Linked DNA regions of Homo sapiens: region 2 is linked to region 1. The links come from fine-mapping of genetic effects on plasma protein levels. A gene starts in region 1. The other region holds a variant in brackets. All regions are shown on one strand. Distances are between the middles of the regions. Region 1 holds the start of LBP (lipopolysaccharide binding protein). Region 2 has its middle 270 kb from the start of LINC01734.

The links. A credible set is the group of variants that fine-mapping cannot tell apart. PIP is the posterior inclusion probability: the model's chance that the variant is causal. The UK Biobank Pharma Proteomics Project read protein levels with antibody pairs (Olink). The fine-mapping took linkage between variants from a reference panel, not from the people measured, so its PIPs are less certain.
Region 2: its variant is the best candidate, but not a certain one, in a credible set for the plasma level of the LBP protein (UK Biobank, PIP 0.88).

Annotation. Positions count from the first base shown.
Region 1 is chr20:38,337,925-38,347,270 of GRCh38, reverse strand. LBP (lipopolysaccharide binding protein) reads right to left here and starts at 789. Exons shown (of 15, transcript NM_004139.5): 1 at 631-789. The coding sequence starts at 754. RefSeq lists enhancers at 2,736-3,513, 4,294-5,070.
Region 2 is chr20:39,492,018-39,501,664 of GRCh38, reverse strand. No RefSeq gene overlaps it. Among named protein-coding and RNA genes, the nearest start is that of LINC01734, 270 kb to the right of the region's middle. The variant C/A (reference allele first, on the strand shown) is at 5,400.

The DNA.
Region 1 (9,346 bases):
TGCCTGGCCTGCCCATTCTTTAAAATTGAGGAATAATATACATAAAGTACCTAACGGGCACAAATTTTAAAGGTATTGCTAAATAATTTTTAATGTTTATACAGGAATGTGATCACCACCTGGATCAAGATATGGCAACTTCCAGCACCCCGGCAGACCTCCCTCATGCCCTTCAGGGTCTCTGCCTGCCTCTAGAGGTGACCACAATTCTGACTTCCAGTTCAGAGGCATGTGTTTCCAAACTTTACGCAGAATTTTCCCAGCTGAGTGGTTCCCATCATCAGAGGTGGTGGCTGGTTTAATTGCACACTCTCTCCTGGCTGCCCTCCCTTCCTCATCTCAGTACCGATTCCCTACAGTGTTTCCTGGAATCATTTCCCAAATCAACTACTTGCACGCAAAGCTGTGTTCTGTTGGCTGGTGGAGGACCTCACTACCACAAATAACATGCCCAGGGCACTCAGCTGGTGGGCAGTAAGGCCAGAATAGGAGCCAGAGCCACCTGACCCAGAAGGTGGCACTGCCCCAGGGAGAGGGTCCGGTCTGTGTCCCCACTCCCTGTCCCCACTGTACCCAGAGCAGCCTGGAGCGTGGGTTTGCCAAGTCCAGCCAGCAGATGTGGCTTCTTACCATACTGCAGTCCCTTGTCGGTGATCCTGGCGACCAAGCCGGGGTTGGCACCCAGAGCCTCTGGGGTGGACGTAAGCAGCAATGCCAGCAGTATGGACGGCAGGGCTCTGGCCAAGGCCCCCATCCTAGATTCCCAGTGCAGTGGGCCAGGACTGTCCCAGCTGTGGATTGGGCCCAGGTCCCTTAAGTAGCCAAGGCTCGATGGCTGGGGGCAGTTCCTGAGGCTGGATGGGTTCCTGGGAGCGGGAAGGGGAGGCACAGGGACTGGAACCTGCTTGCGACATCACTGAAGTCATAAGGTCATACTTAGAAGCCAGTTTTCACTGCCCAGATCAGTGGATGAGGAAGCCTGACTCCTATGATCATCCCTGTCCACCCTCCCCACAGAAAGACCCCATATTCATCACTGTTCATCTTGCCTCATCTCAGCCAGTCTCTTAAGAGCTCGGCTAGGAAGGCCTGGTTTAGCAGATGAGGAAACTGAGGTTCAAAAAAGCCACATAGCTCCCTTGAGATCTCACCCCCAGCAGAGGGCAGGGTTGAGAGTGAAGCTACATCTGGCACCAACCAAACTCTCTTTTTTAAAATATATTGGCTCGTTTATTTAAAAAATAAATGTTTCCCCCAATGGGAAAACAGTGTTTCTCAAACCTTGCTGGTGGTGAAATTTTCTGGAAGGCAATTGGCAAATGTTTAAACAGTTGCATGCCCTGTGACCCAGGAATTCAATTTCAGGGACTTGCCCTTAAATACATAATTGAGTCAGTGTGCCAGTAAATCACTGCTCCAAGATACCACTGCTATGCTGTGGGAAACAGGACAGGAGAAGTGAGACCCAACCTCATGTATCCACCAGAAGGGCATTGGTTAAATGAATTATGACATGCCCCTTAAAGTGAGGCTGCAGAAATAAAGGTATTTCTTGGCAAGGAAAGGGATGTCATGAGGCATCCGTTTCCGATGGCACCATAGAGTAAGGTTCTATTTTGGGGGGTTCAAAATAGGCTTCTATGTTCAACAATCTGGAAAATATTTAGCAAGGAGTCATGAGGCATTGTCTCTGGTTGTGGGGGTAGAATTATAAGTGTTAAAAAAGTTTTTGCTTGTTGATACGTACAATTTTTTTTTCTTTTTTCATTTTTTGAGACAAAGTCTACTCTGTTGCTCAAGCAGGAGTCCAGTGGCATGAACATCGCTCGCTGCAACCTCAACTTCCTGGGCTCAAGTGATCCTCCCACCACAGCCCCCTAAGTAGCTGGGACTACAGGTGTGAGCCACCATGTCCAGCTAATTTTTTGTATTTTAGTAGGGACGAGGTCTTGCTATGTTGCCCAGGCTGGTGTCGAACTCCTGAGCTCAAGTAAGCCTCCCGCTTGGCCTTCCAAAATACTGGGATTATAGACTTGGGCCACCATGCCCAGCCTCTAAAATTTTTATTTTCTTGGGGGTATGGTCCCGGGCATATATTCGCAGTAAGTAAAGATAGTAAAATTTCATTCTGGAAAACAAAATTTATAGTACAGACTGTGTTTAATTTTTAGAGTTTTGCCCCAGCCCTGCTTACATTTGTGAGTTCTGCTTTGCCCTCACCCCCAGGAAGCCTTCCCTGACCACTCCCATGCTTCTCTGGATTCTAGAAAGGGTCCCCTCTGAGGTCCCAGAACCCTTTGCGCTTTCCCCACCACAGCATTAACCACTCTGCTTTTTGATAATTGTGGTCCTTTAAAAATATGCCCACGAATTCTTTGATATTCCTTCCATCAAAAGGTAATGTTTCTGCCCCCTTCCCTTGAAATTGGGCAGGTTTTCATGATGGCCTCAACCAACTGAATGTGGTGGGATTAACAGGGTGACTCCCAATAGGTCACAAACAGCACTGGCAGGCACTGAGGTTAAGATCAGAATGTCCCACGTTAAGCACAGGGAACCCCACAGTCCAGGCCTCTCTGCTCCTCTGTACCGTGTTGCTCCTGTCACTGGGGCTGAGGTTTGTTGGGATCCTCATCCGTCCCTCCCCTCAGTCCCCACACCACCAGTCTGATGGCTCCTTGCAGGCACGGCTGAGTCTTCCATTTCCTGAGATCCTTGCAGCACCCAGCAGAAATTGGAAAGAAACTGATATTTATTGAGCACCTACTATGTGCAGGCGCTGTGCTGGTTAAGCTGCACGTCTCCTCTCATCCTTGCATCAGCAACCCCAGGTGGATATTTTAGTCTTGTCTTGAGATGAAGAAACTGAGGTTTGGCAGGGTGAAGTGATGTAGGCTGCAGTCACCCAGCAGGAATTTAAGTCCAGGTCTGCAGGATGCCATTCCAAAACTCTGGTCAGGGCAGGGTTCTCTTGGGAGGCAACAAGCTGAGCAGAGGCCTCAGGGTAAGGAGCCAGCCTTTGGGAGGCTTTGGAGCAGGAAAGGGCTCACAGGTGCATCCCCAGTGTGCCTAGGGGCCTTTGCTTCCTGGACCTCAGCCTGCCCAGGAGGGGAGGAGAGTGGGGGAGGACATTCTGGAGCATAAGGATCTTATGGGGACATAGATGTCACTCTTCCTCTGGCAGCAGTTTAAGGATGTCCCTGGCTGGGAGTCATTTGCAGGGGTGGGAATTTCCCACAGCAGCAATCTTTGGACCTTAGAGCTGCCACATGGCCCAGGCCTGGCCTCCACCCCTGCAGGTGCCCACTGCTGGCTAAGGTCCCTGCTGATGGCCCAGGACCCAGCAGAGGCCTCAGGGAGCAGCACGACCCCACTGCTGGTCAGAACCCCTGGGCCTTTCTCCTACCAGGCTGTCCATCCAATTCCACAAAAGCAACAGCTGCTACCACTCTGGCCACCACTCAGTCTTATTGCAGTGAAATAGGGACTCTTTTAACAAGGCTGTTTATTGTGTTCTTGTGCAGGAGAGGGCCCCCAGAAATGGCAGTGCATCAAATGATGGACAGGCGATCATAAAACTGTCCCTCTGACATGATAAGTGGCCACGAATGGCGCCAAGAGGGAGAGGAGTTCCCTAACAGATAGTTGACATCATCTGGAGCCAGCAAACCACAATTCCCTGGTAAGGTCGAGCAGAAGGGCAAATGTTGGAGTCTGACTTGTATATGACCTTTTTCTTGCGGCGACGGACCAGTAAGGGAAAATCACCCCAAGTGAGCATGCGCACAACCTTAGTAAACACACTGCGCATGCGGCCCCTCCCAAGTGCTGGCAGGCCATTGCGCATGCAGGGAGGGCGCAGCAGCCCACCGAAGGGAGGAATCAAGGAGGAGAAGAAACCCCAGAACCAAGCCAGTGTATAAAAGCCCCGAGCCAAAGGTTGAGCGGGGCACTTGATCTCTCAGTTGTACTTTGCTTCTTTCAATAAACCTTTGCCTCTGCTTTAAAACTTGCCTGCGTCTCTCAATTGAATTCTTTCCTCTGAGAAGACAAGGGCTGGGAGTGTTGCGGACTCGCCACCGATAATATTCTCACTACAAAAGTGTTACTGAAAAGATTTTGAAAAACCCAGAATTTGGAATCCATAGTGTCTAGAATACTGAGCAGCAAATAGTAGATAATTGCCAAAGGAATAAACAAACCTTATGTTTATCTTTATGGACTCTGGGGCCAGATGGCCTGGATTTGAATCCTGACTCCCCCACGGGGTGACTTTGGGCACTTTGTGACTCAGTTTCCTCATCTCTACTTGGGTTCAGCCAGAGGGTGGCATGGCAGGAGGTCAGATGTCAGGGCACTTTTCCCTGCTGTCTTCTCTAGATCACAAGTGTGGCAGTTGGCTGTGTCCCTCCTGATAAGGCCTTGTCCTTGGCTCCTATTATCTCCTTGGGCTGGGATACCCAGATGCTTTTCTTTGCTGCTTGAGCCTTAGGAAAAACAGTCCCTGGTTGGTTTCCTCAAGCTTGTCCCCCAACTCTAGAAATAGCCACTTTATTCAAATCCCAAGAACCAATGCAGTTGGATTCTCTTTTCTTGCCTGAACCCTGTTGGACACAATTAGCAACACTGAGCATTTCTTCTGCACTTATTCATCTTTTGTGCAAACGCCTGCCTCTCGCAGAGAGCTTTGAATCCTTTTCCAAAGTCTTACAGGTTTTTTGTCAAGGCCCTGCTCCTAATGGGCTGGGGGACCTGGAACAAACTCCACCCCTCTCTGTTCCTCATGTTTCCCCCAAATGCAGATGAGGGCTGGGGACTAGGACAGCTTTTCAGAAACAAAGACGTGCAGTCAAGTCCCCCAGGGATCTTGTTTAGATGCAAATCTTGATCCATCATGTTCCTCTTGGGGCTGAGCCTCTGCATTTTAACAAGCTCCCTGGTGAGGGTGATGCTGCTGACCACGGATTGTGCTTGGAGCTTCGGGAACAAGGGACTAAATGAGCTCCGAGTTCCCTCCAAGCTCAGCAGTTCTCTAATGCTTCACTCTCCTTTTCGATAGTTTTCTATGACGGTGCCCACACTCCTGAGAACACTGACTCTTGAAAGAGAATGATGTTATGAATTCCTGCAGTTCTGAATCTCTGCAGGGTACTTTGGAGTTGGGAGTTTAATATTTATGGCAGCCTCTCCCCAAGCCACATCACCTGCAGATCTGAATGTGTGCCTGTGTACGCACACGCACAGACACACACACATGAGCCCTGAGACATGCGGGCTTACAAAATAAAAGTAGTAACGTCAGTGACGATCCTTTGTGGCTTGAAGGTTGCGTGTCTTGAGATACCAGGAGCCCCCATGGAGCAGGGCTGGTCATGTGGATAAACAGCTCCTCACCCCAGAGAGCCCTTACTTTTACAGATGGGGAAACTGAGACCTAGAGAGGGAGAACTGGCCCAGGTTACACTGTGAGCCTATTGCTGAACTGGAGAGGATAAATCCAGAGTTCTGGCCAGCCAGGGGCTCTGATTCTTGGGGTCAGGCCCATTCAGGCAGACAGCCCTGGATCATACATTGAGAATCACTGGCATAAATGTTTTGAGTTATGCAGATGTGGGTTGAAATCCCAGATCATTTTTAAAATAAATACTTACTGATCACCAACTATGTGGCAGGCATTGGGAATACTACTGTAGCCAGATATAGTATTTTTTTTGTTTTTTTTTTTTTGAGACAGAGTCTCACTCCATCACCCAGGCTGGATGGAGTGCAGTGGTGTGATCTCAGCACACTGCAACCTCCGCCTTCTGGGTTCAAATGATACTCGTGCGTCAGCCTCCTGAGTAGCTGGGACTACAGGTGTGTGCCACCACGCCCGGCTAATTTTTGTGTTTTTAGTGGAGACTGGGTTTCGCCATGTTGCCCAGGCTGGTCTCGAACTCCTGGGCTCAAGTGATCCACCTGCCTCAGACTTCCAAAGTGCTGGGATTACAGGTCGTGAGCCACTGCACCTGGTCAGATATAGTCTTTACAGTATAGTAAGAAGAACTGCGTTTATTCAAATTAGAGCAAACTTGGATTACTGTTGTCAACCCCTGTACCACGGATTTGACATGTATTTGATTCTCATAACAACTTTATGAGGTAGGTACTATAATGATGTTCCCTTTATAGATGAGAAATAGAAAACCTGAGAATTAAGTATACTGCCCAAAGTCACACAGCTGGTAAATAGCAGACGTGGGATTTAAACCCAAGATATCTGGGATCATGGTTCATACTCTTAACCACTGTGCCATGACCCTATCAATCATACCTCTGATTCTTCCCAATAACCTCATGCCGAGAGGGCAAGATTTTAACTCTCCTTTTCAAAGGAGGAAATAGAGGGCCAGAGAGGTTAAGGAACATTTGCAAAGTCACACAGCTCTTGAGGGGGCCGGATTTATGTTTGAAACCACCGCCAGGTGACTCCAGAGCCCAGGCTCTGAACAGTTAGCTTAGCAGGCCACACGACTTTTCTAGAGACTCCTCATCTGAAAAACAAGGGCAACCTTGGCTACCTTTAGCGGTTGTCATGAGGATTAAATAGGATCATAAGCCTGAAGAGATAGACCCAGGGACAGGGCTGCTCATGGCCACTAGCGGGACATGGCAAAATGATGAAGACAGTGCTTAGTCTTCCTGTGCCCCTCCCCACCTTCTCTCCTTGCAGAGGGTACTCCTCCCTCATATTTATTTAATAAGTCAGCATTTCCAAAAGGAACCCCAGGAAGGCTGTGCTTATCCCAGAAGGGAAGCTGCTCTGATGGTGAGCTTTTAGGCAGTTTGGAGTGAACAATTCTTTTTTTTCTTCTTCAATTGTCTTTTGCCACTTTATTGACATATATTTCATATACATAAAATTCACCCATTTAAAGTGTACAATCCAGAATTTAATTTTAGAACATTTTCAACGTCACCCAAAGAAACCCCAAACACACATTTGCAGTCATCTGCAGCAGACAATGCTTAGCCTGAAGGGAGAAGCTGCTCAAATAGTGGTTCTGTAGCCAACTTGGCAGAACCTTTGGAGTGTGTTGGGGAATGCTGCTCAAACCCTAACCCCCAAGCAACTGCCTTTCCTCAGCCATTAGAGAGAAGTTCGCAGGCACAATGTGTTTCATGCACCAATCTTCAGGTCCAAGAAAGATTTAGGTTGATGGAAAAGTAATTATTTTTTTTGGCATTAAAAGTAACGGCCAAGACTGGATTCAGTGGCTCACACTTGTAATCCCAGCACTTTGGAAGGCCAAGGTGGGTGGATCACTTGAGGTCAGGAGTTGGAGACCACTCTGGCCAACATGGAGAAACCCTGTCTATATTTAAAAATATATGTACACAAAATATTAGCCGCGCGTACTGGTGTGAGACTGTAATCCCAGATACTTGGGAGGCTGAGGCAGGAGAACGGTTTGAATCCGGGAGGCAGAGGTTGCAGTGAGCCAAGATCACACCACTGCATTCCAGCCTGGGTGACAGAGCGAGACTCTGTCTCCAAAAAAAAAAAGTAATTGCGGTTTTTGCATTAAAAGTAATGGCAAAAACCGCAATTACTTTTGCACCAACCTAATAATTGCATTTTTTTTTTTTTTTCTATAGAGTGTGGAGCAGGGGGTGCCTATATGTTACAGAAAGTAGAGGGCAGGTGTAGAAGGGGGTTAACTCCAAAGAGAATGAGGGTGGGGGATGGCAGGTGTGTGTCCATATCTACCAGCTAGTCTCCCCAGCAGCCAGAGGGCTCTTTTACAAATGTGAATTGGATTGTAACATTCTTCTGCTCAAAACTCTCCAGTGGCTTGCCTTATCTTTTGGAACAAAACCTAGAGCCCTTAACAGTCCTCATGGCCTCCCAGTCTATCCCACGCTGTGCTTCCCTTCTCTCTCTTCCTTCCGCCCTTGCTAGCTGCTCTTCTGTTCTATTCAGGGCCTCCATAGCCCCTGGCTAGTGGAGAAAAAGATGCATACTACTGGTGGACAAATTAGAGAAAGACTTTTGTTTCCTCAACCTGGTACAACCTATGTTTTACAGTGTACAACCTATGCCACAGAACAAAGAAGTTCTGCTTTAAACGTGCCAAGTCCCCCAGAACAGACAACATTTTGACATCGGGGAGGAGCAAAAAAAGCATGGGCTCTGACATGTGGGAATAGATAAGGTGGGAATTCCAACTCTGCCACCTGCTGGCTATGTGATCAGGGAAGGGTAACTCAATTTAAAATGTTTGAACAGCTGGGCTCGGTGGCTCACCCCTGTAATCCCAGCGCTTTGGGAGACCCAGGCAGGTAGATGACCTGAGGTCAGGAGTTTGAGACCTGCCCGGCCAACATGATGAAACCTCATCTCTACTAAAAATACAAAAATTAGCCAGGCATGATGGCACATGCCTGTAGTCCCAGCTACTCAGGAGGCTGAGGCAGGAGAATCGCTTGAACTTGGGAGTCAGAGGTTGCAGTGAGCTGAGATCGTGCCACTGCACTCCAGCCTGGGTGACAGAGCAAGACTCTGTCTCAAAAACAAACAACCAAAAAAGTTTGAGCAATTGCCATCTTGGGGGATGAAGAATGCTATCAGGATTAAATTAGATCATTCATGCCCTTTGCTTGACTCCTGAGAGTGTTTGATCAATGGCCCTCCCTTCTTGTGTGGCCCTAGAGCCTTTAACTCCATTTGACAGAGAATCAATGATGTCAGCAGAAGTGTGTACATTTTTCTTTATAAATAAAATAAATACCTTTTATCTGCTTTTGCTCGCTACAAATGCTTCTCTTCAATTTTACCATCACCAATCTGGTTGAAGCTTGAATAACAACACATTCCTAATTTGTGCTCATCCCTTGCCCTCTTGTCCTTCTGATGCTTTCAGAAGTCACAATAAAACATTTTAAAAACTAAATCTGGTCATGTGGTCCCCCACTCCACCGTCTGCATCGAACTCCTCCAGTGTGTTGTTGCTCATCCTTATGGTCTCAGAGCACATGTCAGCAGTGTAGAAAGGCCTTCCAGGACTCCTCAATCAATCTGAAGTACAATCCATAAAACCCCATCTCATGGGCTGAGATAGCCCCCTCTGATGTCCCATGGCAGGAAATGGCCCAAAGCCCCCAAGGAAACTCCCCAGAATTCCAAAGACAGTCTGGGTTGGTGATCTGGCTTCCACACTAGAGCTGGGAGAGTCATGGGGAAGTGCTAATTGCACCCAAAGATGTGACTGAAGCAGAAAACCCCAATGGACTCTGTCACCTGGCCCATTGTTCTGCTTTTGGGGACAATGGCTGGGCAGGAGAACATGGATGAAACGGGGAGCCC
Region 2 (9,647 bases), 1.2 Mb before region 1:
CAGGCGGCTCAGCCTCTTTAGAAAGACAAGTGGCAGGGATACAATCACTCCCACAGGCTGAGATGTTAGGGGGAAGAAGAGATGCCCTCTCTTCTCCCTCCTTTGTATCCAGCAGAACTCCACAGAGCCATTAAGCACTGGCATTATACTGGGCCTCCAGAGCTCAAGGTTCCCTTCACATTGCAAACAAATTCACTTTGGCCACTTTTCAGCAGGAGAGCAGACCAATTAGCACTCAAGACCAGAACTCGATTCAGGGTGCTGAGTTGGAGAAGAGAAGACCGTCAATGCTGTGATTTCTCTCCCACTGCCCACGCCCACCATCAGGCAAACCTGGAGCAGCACTCTCAGGTGAGATCCTCAGCATCACCAGAATATAGGAGGTTCAGGGGCCAAAGTTAAGGGAATAAGCAAGGGGTACTCAGGATTTGCAATGCAAAGTTATTACCATCCCTAGGCTGCAAGAATAATCGGAGTATGTATTATTGGAGAAGGGTCCTACAGGTGAGAGCTGTAGTCACAATGGGAGGAAGCTATTGCCAGAAACAGGACACCAAGGGGGAGTGGGGAAGAAACACTCTGACCTCTCCCTACTCCTTCCTTCCAATCACCAGCTGGAAGCTCCCACGGGCCAATCCCAATTTGGAGACAATAGCAAGGGAGCCAGTTGATGGGATCTATGGAGGTTGACTTTATAAGGTACAGAGAAGGACAGAGAGTATATGAAGGGGATAAAGCTTTGCAAACATAATAATAACATAAGGGAGAGGATGTGGAGGAAGAAGAAGAGGAAAAAGAGAAAACAGTTACCAGCACAAATCCTTCTCAATGGATATGCACTTCCCAGAGCATAGGCTGTGAAAGAATGGATCCATCATATATCATTCCAGTAGGACCCAAAGACCAATGGAAAAGAATTCATGTTCATATAAGAAAAGTTAGATTTTGAAGTCACAATACCTCCATCTTTTTGCTCTTTGCCCCCTAAAGCAATAACAATGGCTTTGGCTCCTTTCCTTCTGCAGGCATTGTGGTCAACTCTTTATGTGCCATATCCTTTTCATTCACGCAACAACTCTGCAACCTAGATATTATAATCCCCATTGTAAAGACTAGGTAACTGAGATTCAGATGAAGTCAAGCCAATATCCTGATGAGATAAGTTTTAAGTTCCAGTCCCTATTAACAATTATTATTCTGAGAATTGCCTGTGAATGGACCCCAAATATCCTTAGCCAAGCTGAGAATCATTTTTAATTCAGATCCCAGAGCCAGCTCCCAGCCTTTCTGTTCATCCTTGACACACGTATCTGCTTTTGACTCTTTTATAGACATTTCACTTTTCTTAATTGGAGCTTTATTTTTCTTCACAGATTGTTTTTGCTTTATGTTTAGTGTCAGTACCTGCCACTAGCCTGCATTTTTCGTAAGAGTGGGGGCCATGGTTCTCCTTGCACATCGTGTGGGGGCATACAGCAGGAGCTCAGCAAGCATGCATTGAATGAATGTGCCCAGTGAGCAGGGCTGAGGCCACCCAATTCTCCCCACGTCTAGCTCAGAGAAGAACCCAATAAGTATTCAGAAAATATCAAATTATGTGTCCCCCATGTTCCATTCCCTGCTGTGGTTCCTGTGTCTCTATAAATCCTACCATTCTTTAAGGCCAACTTCAACTTTTCTCTTCCCTAGAAAGCTGTTCATAGGCATTGCAGCATAATGATGAGGAGCCCAGCCTTAATATTAAAAAAGCAAGGGTTGGAATCTGACTTCATCACTTATTAGTTGTGTGACCTTAGCAAAGTTACTAAGTAACTCTCTCAGTCTCAATTATGACATCCATAAAATGGAGTAATGTGTGTTCCCATCATGCAAGGTGATGACATGTGGAAAGTATTTACAACAGTATCTCGGGTAGAGTACATGCTCATTTAAGGCAAGTTGCTGTTATGCTAACACTCAGTGAATTGCCTGAATTATTATTATTTAGCATCATCTTGTTTTCTATTGCAGCATATGTTTATTTTGTGTATCCCAGCAAGCATATGGGCTCCTCCTAGGTGAATCCTTGACATACCTTATGATCTCCTGTATTCCTAAGGGCCACATAAATTCTTGTGACATTAGAGCAGGTATTCAACAAATACATTAGTGCTGCATGAGGTTTTATTTATTATTTTCCTTTGGTTCGCTAGGGAATTTATGAAATGTATGAAAAAATAAATAAAAATAATTGTTTATAATTTCCACCACTACTCAGAATGATCTAGGTTCTTCCTTCACATACTCTTCACCCAAATACATGTGAATTATATAGTTTACATATATTACATACATAGGCTCTTTCCTCAAGTATATATGAGATTATACAGTATAAACAACCTCATGCTCTGTATTTTTCACACATTTACGGTATGTTTCCCCCATAACATCATAAACTATAATAAGCATCATTTTAAGTGACTCTATTATATAACACAACAATTTGGCACAATTTATTTAACTGGTCCCCTATGGTTGGACACTTAGGTTGTTTCCAACTTCCTGTTATTATGAATAATATTATAACTAATAGATTTGTGCATAAAATGTTTCTGCATCTTAGATAATAATAGCTGTAATAGTGAGTGTTCTACTAGAATATAAATTATACCATTTTTTACCCCATTTACTGTTCTTCCTTTTATATTCTTCTAATAGACCCTCTGCTTCTCTATAGCACTAACCACACTCATTATTATTTGTTTAAGCTCTTTCTTCCTTGATGGCTCAATGACAGGAGATATTCCCCATATCTGGCACAATGACTTGTTCAGTAAACATTTTTCGATGAACGAATAATAAATTGGACAGATCAAAGTTAGAATTTGGATTGCTGCACTTTCCATCTGTGTACATTTGAACAAGTCCCATAACCTATCTCTCATAGATGTAGAGGCTCAGAAAGCTTAAGTGATACGTCCAGTGTCACACAGCTGGTGAGCACTGGAGCATGGACTTGCACCCACATACTCTGATTCAAAGCCCAGTTCTTCCCACCCTAATGCTATCCTCTTGGCTGTCTCTGTGCACATTCAAGCCTTCTCTCCTCGCATCCTTAAATGACACTCACATCTCAGTATGTGACACCTAAGCCATTCCATGAGGCATACAATGGGCTGCCAGCTGGAGGGGATGACAGTGAGCTCTCCACAACACAGTGGAGCTCTGCAAAACTTTTAGCCAATGGCACAATTTGACTTCAAGGTCTTGAGGCTGTTGATGCCGCTGCTCAAACCAGGGAAAGACAGAATCAAGAGCGTGTCAGGTGATTAACCAAAAATACCAGCTTGATGGCAGAGCCTCTATCTGGAGTAGTCTGATTTCTGGATGAATCTGAGACCAGTGTTGACCCTTTCCTCACCAAATAACTTGTTGTCTCATTGTCCTGTAAGATTCTGAAAGAACTCTGCTGCTTTTAGGCCCATTCCGACTTAGGAGGGGCACCCAAGCCTGCACCCTCTTTCACTCACACATATCTGAGGCATTGGAGAGGTTCAGACATGAAGGAGCACTTGGATTAGTCTGAATTATCTGTTAAGACTTTTTTATTATACTTGAATTCATTTATTAGCATAATCAATACAAATTTCACTCTCAGATCCTAAGCATGCAGGAAATACAGTTACTTGGTTTTTCTAAATGCAAATTCATTCTAATTCTTAACCCCAATCCTGCGAGAATGTGGGAAATTTGACCTTACACATTATAGAGTCTTTCTCCTCTAAAGATAAATTAATTGTTTTTGCAACACAGAATCTCCTGCAGGAGCTCTCTTGGCTTTGGGTTTGTTCTATGTTTCTGTTCTGTTGTCTGAGGCTGGGACACCTGGCACTGAGAATACAGCCTCTGGGTGCTCTGTGAAACCCTGTCCCACCCCTGGGTACAATAGGGGCTGAGGCACATAATCCCGCTAAATCTGGTCCTGAAGCCCAAAACCACTATGCTGCTCTGTCTTGGGAAATTTATTCCTTTTTTGTCTCCTTCCCACCCCAAAAAGGTACTCACCCCCTAAGCTAGATATTTTCCATTTCCCCTCCAGAGCTACGCATACCACCTACTCAGTATTTGGAGACTAACCTTTAAGTTCCACATCAACCAACTCTCTTGCCTCCTGGCCTTGATTTGGGTTTGGTTAATGGGGTTACGAGTTCAGCCAATGGAAGGTGCCATATTGGAAGGTAGGAATAGAGTGAAGTAGGTGTTTTATTTCCTCAGATTCTCTCCTGTCCGGTCATCACAGATTGGGCTTCTCCCTCTACCAGGGGCCACAGCTCTTATCTGGTGGCTGGTTCTGGTTTTAGTAATCACTTCCGTACCTTGCAGATCTAGAGCTGGTAAAGGCTCCTCTCTGTTCCTAGCCATGGAGTGCTGCACCATTCTTTGTTTCTTTTAACCTTTCCCACAATTTTGTAAATTGCTCCCTCATTAAATGCATTCAGCTAGCCCATGTGCGTGTGCTGTTTTCTGTTGGGACCCTCACTAATGCTCCCTTTTCTCCTCTCCCTGGCACAATCACATCAAAGAGTTATAGTTTGTGAAACAGAAGTCGTAAACACCAAGTGCATGTGTTTTTGACATGGAATGGGGAATGGGTTGGGAGAGTACTTCCAGGCATCTTCCCATCTTATCCAACAACAAAGAGAATCAAAGCATACAGAGTTCTGGTTACCTTCTTCTTAGAGCTGGAGGAGGGGAGAATTCAATGAAAACAAAACACAACGCATATTGACACCTCGGTTATACTTTATCATCATAAACGTGGCCAAGAAAAATCAAGGAATAAAAAACTGATACTCATAGAAGTATTCAAACTATATATTATTTGTTTTGTTTTGTTTGCTTTTGGGGTTTTGTTTTTTTTGTTTGTTTTTTTTTTTTTTTGACGAAGTCTCACTCTGTCGCCCAGGCTAGCGTGCAGTGGAACGATCTCAGCTCACTGCAGCCTCTGCCTCCCAGGTTCAAGTAATTCTCGTGCCTCAGTCTCCCGAGTAGCTGGGATTATAGGTGTGAGCCACCATGCCTGGCTAATTTTTGTATTTTTGTAGAGATGGGGTTTCACCATGTTGGCCAGACTGGAAGGACTCAAACTCCTGACCTCAGGTGATCCACCCACCTCAGCCTCTCAAAGTGCTGGGATTACAGGCCTGAGCCACTGCGCCTAGCCATATTCTTTGTTTTAATATTCAATGCTGAATTTTGAATAAAAACTGTAGTTTTTTTGAAATATCTATAAATGTGTTTAAATTTATGAGGTACCTGTGTGATTTTGCTACATGTATAGGCTGCATAGCAACCAACTCAGGACTTTTGTGGTATCTATCACTCAAATAATGTACATTATACTATTAAGTAATTTCTCA[C/A]CATCCTCTCCCTTCACACCCCCTCACCCTTCCAAGTCTCTGTTACCTATCATTCCACCTCTATGGTCATGTGAACAGATTTTTTAATAACCAGTGAAAACTGAGAACATGTAATATTTTTCTTTATGGGCCTGGGTTGCTTCACTTAAGATAATGACCACCAGTTCCATCCATGTTGTGGCAAAAGATGATTTTATTCTTTTTTATGGCTGACTAGTATTCTGTTATGTATATTTACCACATTTTTTAATCCATCTGTCTGTTGATGGACACTTAGTTTGATTCCATATCTTTGCTATTGTGAATAGTGCTATGATAAACATACAAGTACAGGTACCTTTTTGATATATTGATTTATTTTCCTTGGGTAGATACCCAGGAGTGGAATTGCTGGATCAATGGTAGTCCTCTTTTAGTTTTTTGAGAAATCTCCATACTGTTTTCCTTAGAGGCTGCACTAATTTACATTCCCACCAACAGTATATAAGAGTTCCCTTTTCCGCACATCCTTGCTAACATTTCTTTTTAAATCTTTTTAATAATAGCCATTCTGGAGTAGGATGATACATCATTATGGTTTCAATTTGCATTTTTCTGATGATTAGTGATGTTGAGCATTTTTTCATATGTCTGTTGATTGTTTACATATCTTCTTTTGAAAAATGTTCTTTGCCCACTTTTTAATAGGATATTTGGGGTTTTGTTGTTACTGTTGTTGAGTTGTTTGAGTTTCTTTTATATTTTGGTGATTGGTTTCCTCTTTGACACAAATCCTCTTCATCTCAGTGTCCACTTTGCAAACCCATGCAGCAAATTGAACTTGCATTCCCTTGATCTCCTAAGTTCAACATCTTCCATTCCCCACCCCACACCAGTCATCCTCCACAGGGCCATGACTATATGCAACCATCCCTCAGAACTACTTCACCTCTGATAGCACGTTTTGAAATCCCATGTTCTGGCTGTTACTTCCTTCTGCACTCTACCTTTTATCATTTTGCCTCCATTGACCCTGCACGCTTTCTCATTATTGCATCATTAAACCTATATTAAAGTGCTCTCATTCTCCATCCACTTCATGAAAGTCCAGGAGACTCCTGGTGAACCATATCAAGAGCACTGTAAGTGTCTCCTTACCTTCTAGTCCTTCTACCTTCCCCTCTTAACAAAACCCATTGACCATGCTCGGACTCAATATTTGGCCCAACAGACCTGCAGGAGAAAGTTATAACTATACACCTACTAGATTCACTGCAATGTCCTGATGTTCCTCTCAGGCCTTCACAGATGCTAAGTCATTCCTGCATTCAGCTCCCGTTGCTTACTCTGTGCTATCTGTCTCTCCTTTCCTCAAGCCTACAAACTAAAAATGCCAATAGATTTTATATCCTATTCTACATCCAAACAATTGAGAACAGCTATTCAGATCACTGTTTTAGAAGGATTGTGAGAAAAAGAGTACAAGAATTGATTAGTCGTATCTGCCACAGGCATGGGTAAGAAAGGGTGTGTGTGAGCCACTCATTCACACCATCTTGGTCCCAAACCTGCAACACTCACATTCTAAGGAGCTGCTCAGCATTCTGAGAAGACTTACACCAGATGGGGTTAGTACCTTCAATGTGTTCTCCCCATCAAAATCTCTCCCCTTCCTTATTTCTCTCCCATATCTGAGAAAATTAACATCCTTACTGAAGGCTAAGGTTAACCAATGTTCTGTACTTTTGATCTCCCTGGGATGATGTACATAGACTGATGAAGGAGTGGCACCAGCAGTGGCTGATGAAGGAGGCAGAAATATTATGGCCATTGTAAGCTGGTTTTCTCTAGGGCTCAGCAGAAAATGGGTACAAAGTAGATTATGTTCTGGGGCAGCATTTTTTTTTTTGTCTCTGAACATTGTCATCCCCTCCTCCCAAGAAAGATTGACTCTAGCAATCCCAGCTCTTAATGACAAGCAACAGAAACTGCCTCTGATTTAGGCAGAAAAGAAAATTTGTTGAAAGGATGGCTCAGAGAATTGCTAGGAATTTGGGATCACCTGGCCCAGAAAACAAACAGGAAGATATATTTGTTTTTTGTACCTGATTTAACAAATTATCACAAACTCTGTGGATCAAAAACAGAAATGTATTCTCTCATAGTTCTGGAGGCCAGAAATTCAAAATTGGGGTGTGTTGCAGAGCCATATTCTCTCCAAATGTTTTAGGGAAGAATTCTTCCCTGGCCTCTTCCAACTTCTGGTGGCTCCAGGCCTTCTTTGGCTTGTGGCCATATCCTGCCTCCTGGCCACATTGCCTTCTCCTCTGTCTATCTCTCTCAAAACACCCTCTGCCTGTCTCTTACAAGGAAGCATGAGATTGCATTTAGGGGCCACATGGATAATGTAGGATAAACTCCTCCTCTCAAGATCCTTCACTTTATCAGATATTTTACCATATAAGGAAACAGCCACAATCTTTGGAGGCCCATTTTTCAGTTCATCACACAGCCATACTCCATCTGTACCAAACATGAAGGCCCATGGTACTACCACCGCTGCTCATGGGAATGGGTGTTTCTGCCACCGCCCTTGCTATCATCACCCACTCTGAAGGAGTTTCTCCACTGTCACTGCTTCTTTGCTTCTATAGCTTCCAAAGTCCTGGAGCAGTATTTCTGATTGGCTGAGCATAGATGATACAACCATAGGGACTAACCTCAAAGAAAGAAGGGACAGTGGGTACCTGTGCCTTGCTTTGTGGCTCTGTGGTCAGAGGTAGGCAGGGCCTTTCCTGAAGTCTCATACAGTGGGCAATTTCTCCAACATCAGAAGAGGTTCATGTACTAGACATGGGAAACAGCAAGCTTCCACTAGACTTTCCCAGATCTTTCTCCAGGTATGCATGAGGTTCTTGAATGATTTCACAAGCTGATTTCTCCCATTCTTTTGTGCTGATGGCACTTCAGAATCTCATGATTTTGCATGAGGGTACCATCTTGCCACAATCACGCTGGCCACCGTCCACTCAAAGAGTGCTGGAATCGATTAGACATTTGACTTCTGAAGATCCCAAAACCACAAACACATGATACCAATGCATCCGAGAAGTCTTAGATGTCCTTACAGCCAAGCTATTCTATAAGCAAGAGGAGGACTGTCTTAGTCTGTTTGGGCTGTTATAATAGAACACCATACACTGGGGTGCTTATGAACAAGAGAAATTTATTTCTTACAATTCTAGAGGCTAGGAACTCCCAGATCAAGGCACTTGCAGATTCCGTGTTTTGTAAGAACATGCCTCCTGGTTCATAGATTGTCTCTTCTCACTGTGTTCTCACATGGTAGAAGAGCAAATGAGCTCTCTGGGATCTCTTTTATAAGGGCACTAATCCCATTCAAGAGGGTTCCACCTTCATTACCTAATCACCTCCTAACTCCATCACATTAGGGATTAAGTCTCCACATATGAATTTTGATGGGACACATACATTCAGCTGACAGCAGGGATGAATGCCTCTCTCTTCCCCTCTGAGTAACAGTGTTCCCTGAGCCCTACACCACCAGGACTGTGCCCTGGTTTCTATGGAACTGCGGCTCTTTCTGCTCTTTAACCTGAGTCCCTTCTTTCCCCGTTCTCCACAATGCTCAGAAATGAATCCATGGGCCTGACCCAGGGAGTCACTCTCTGTGAAATCGCTAAACTATTCAATCCCTCTTCAATACAGCTGTGTGTGCAAGCATTTTCCTCTTTCTTATTTAGACAAAAGCCCTCCTACAAAAGACATGTCTTCACTCCTGACAGTCCTGCTACACATATAATTCTAAAACAGGGTAAAACTAAACACAGGCCAAATAAAAGTATAAGCCAAAGGCTATGAAAGCACAAAGAAAAGGCATGCCTTGCAAGGCATCACAGAGGGTGCAGAATGGAAATTGCCTTTAGAATGTGATGGCTACCCGTGTGTGCTCATGCCAAAACACATGCGTATGCACCCTTTTATCTCAGGCTCAGATGCCAACACATCCCACATCGGGAAGACTAGGCTCCAGGTTCCATCTGACCCTTCACTCCATTTCTCACCAGGCATCAAAGGAGTTATATTTTTAAGTTGGGCAACAGTGTTGCCTAACTCTTTAAAAGCTTCCCATGTCACTTGTTATTATGGGTTGGACTGTAAGTCCCCCCCACCCCCAACTCCCCCAGCAAAAAAGATATGTTCAAGTTCAATTCCTAGTACCTGTGACTGTGACATCACCTTATTTGG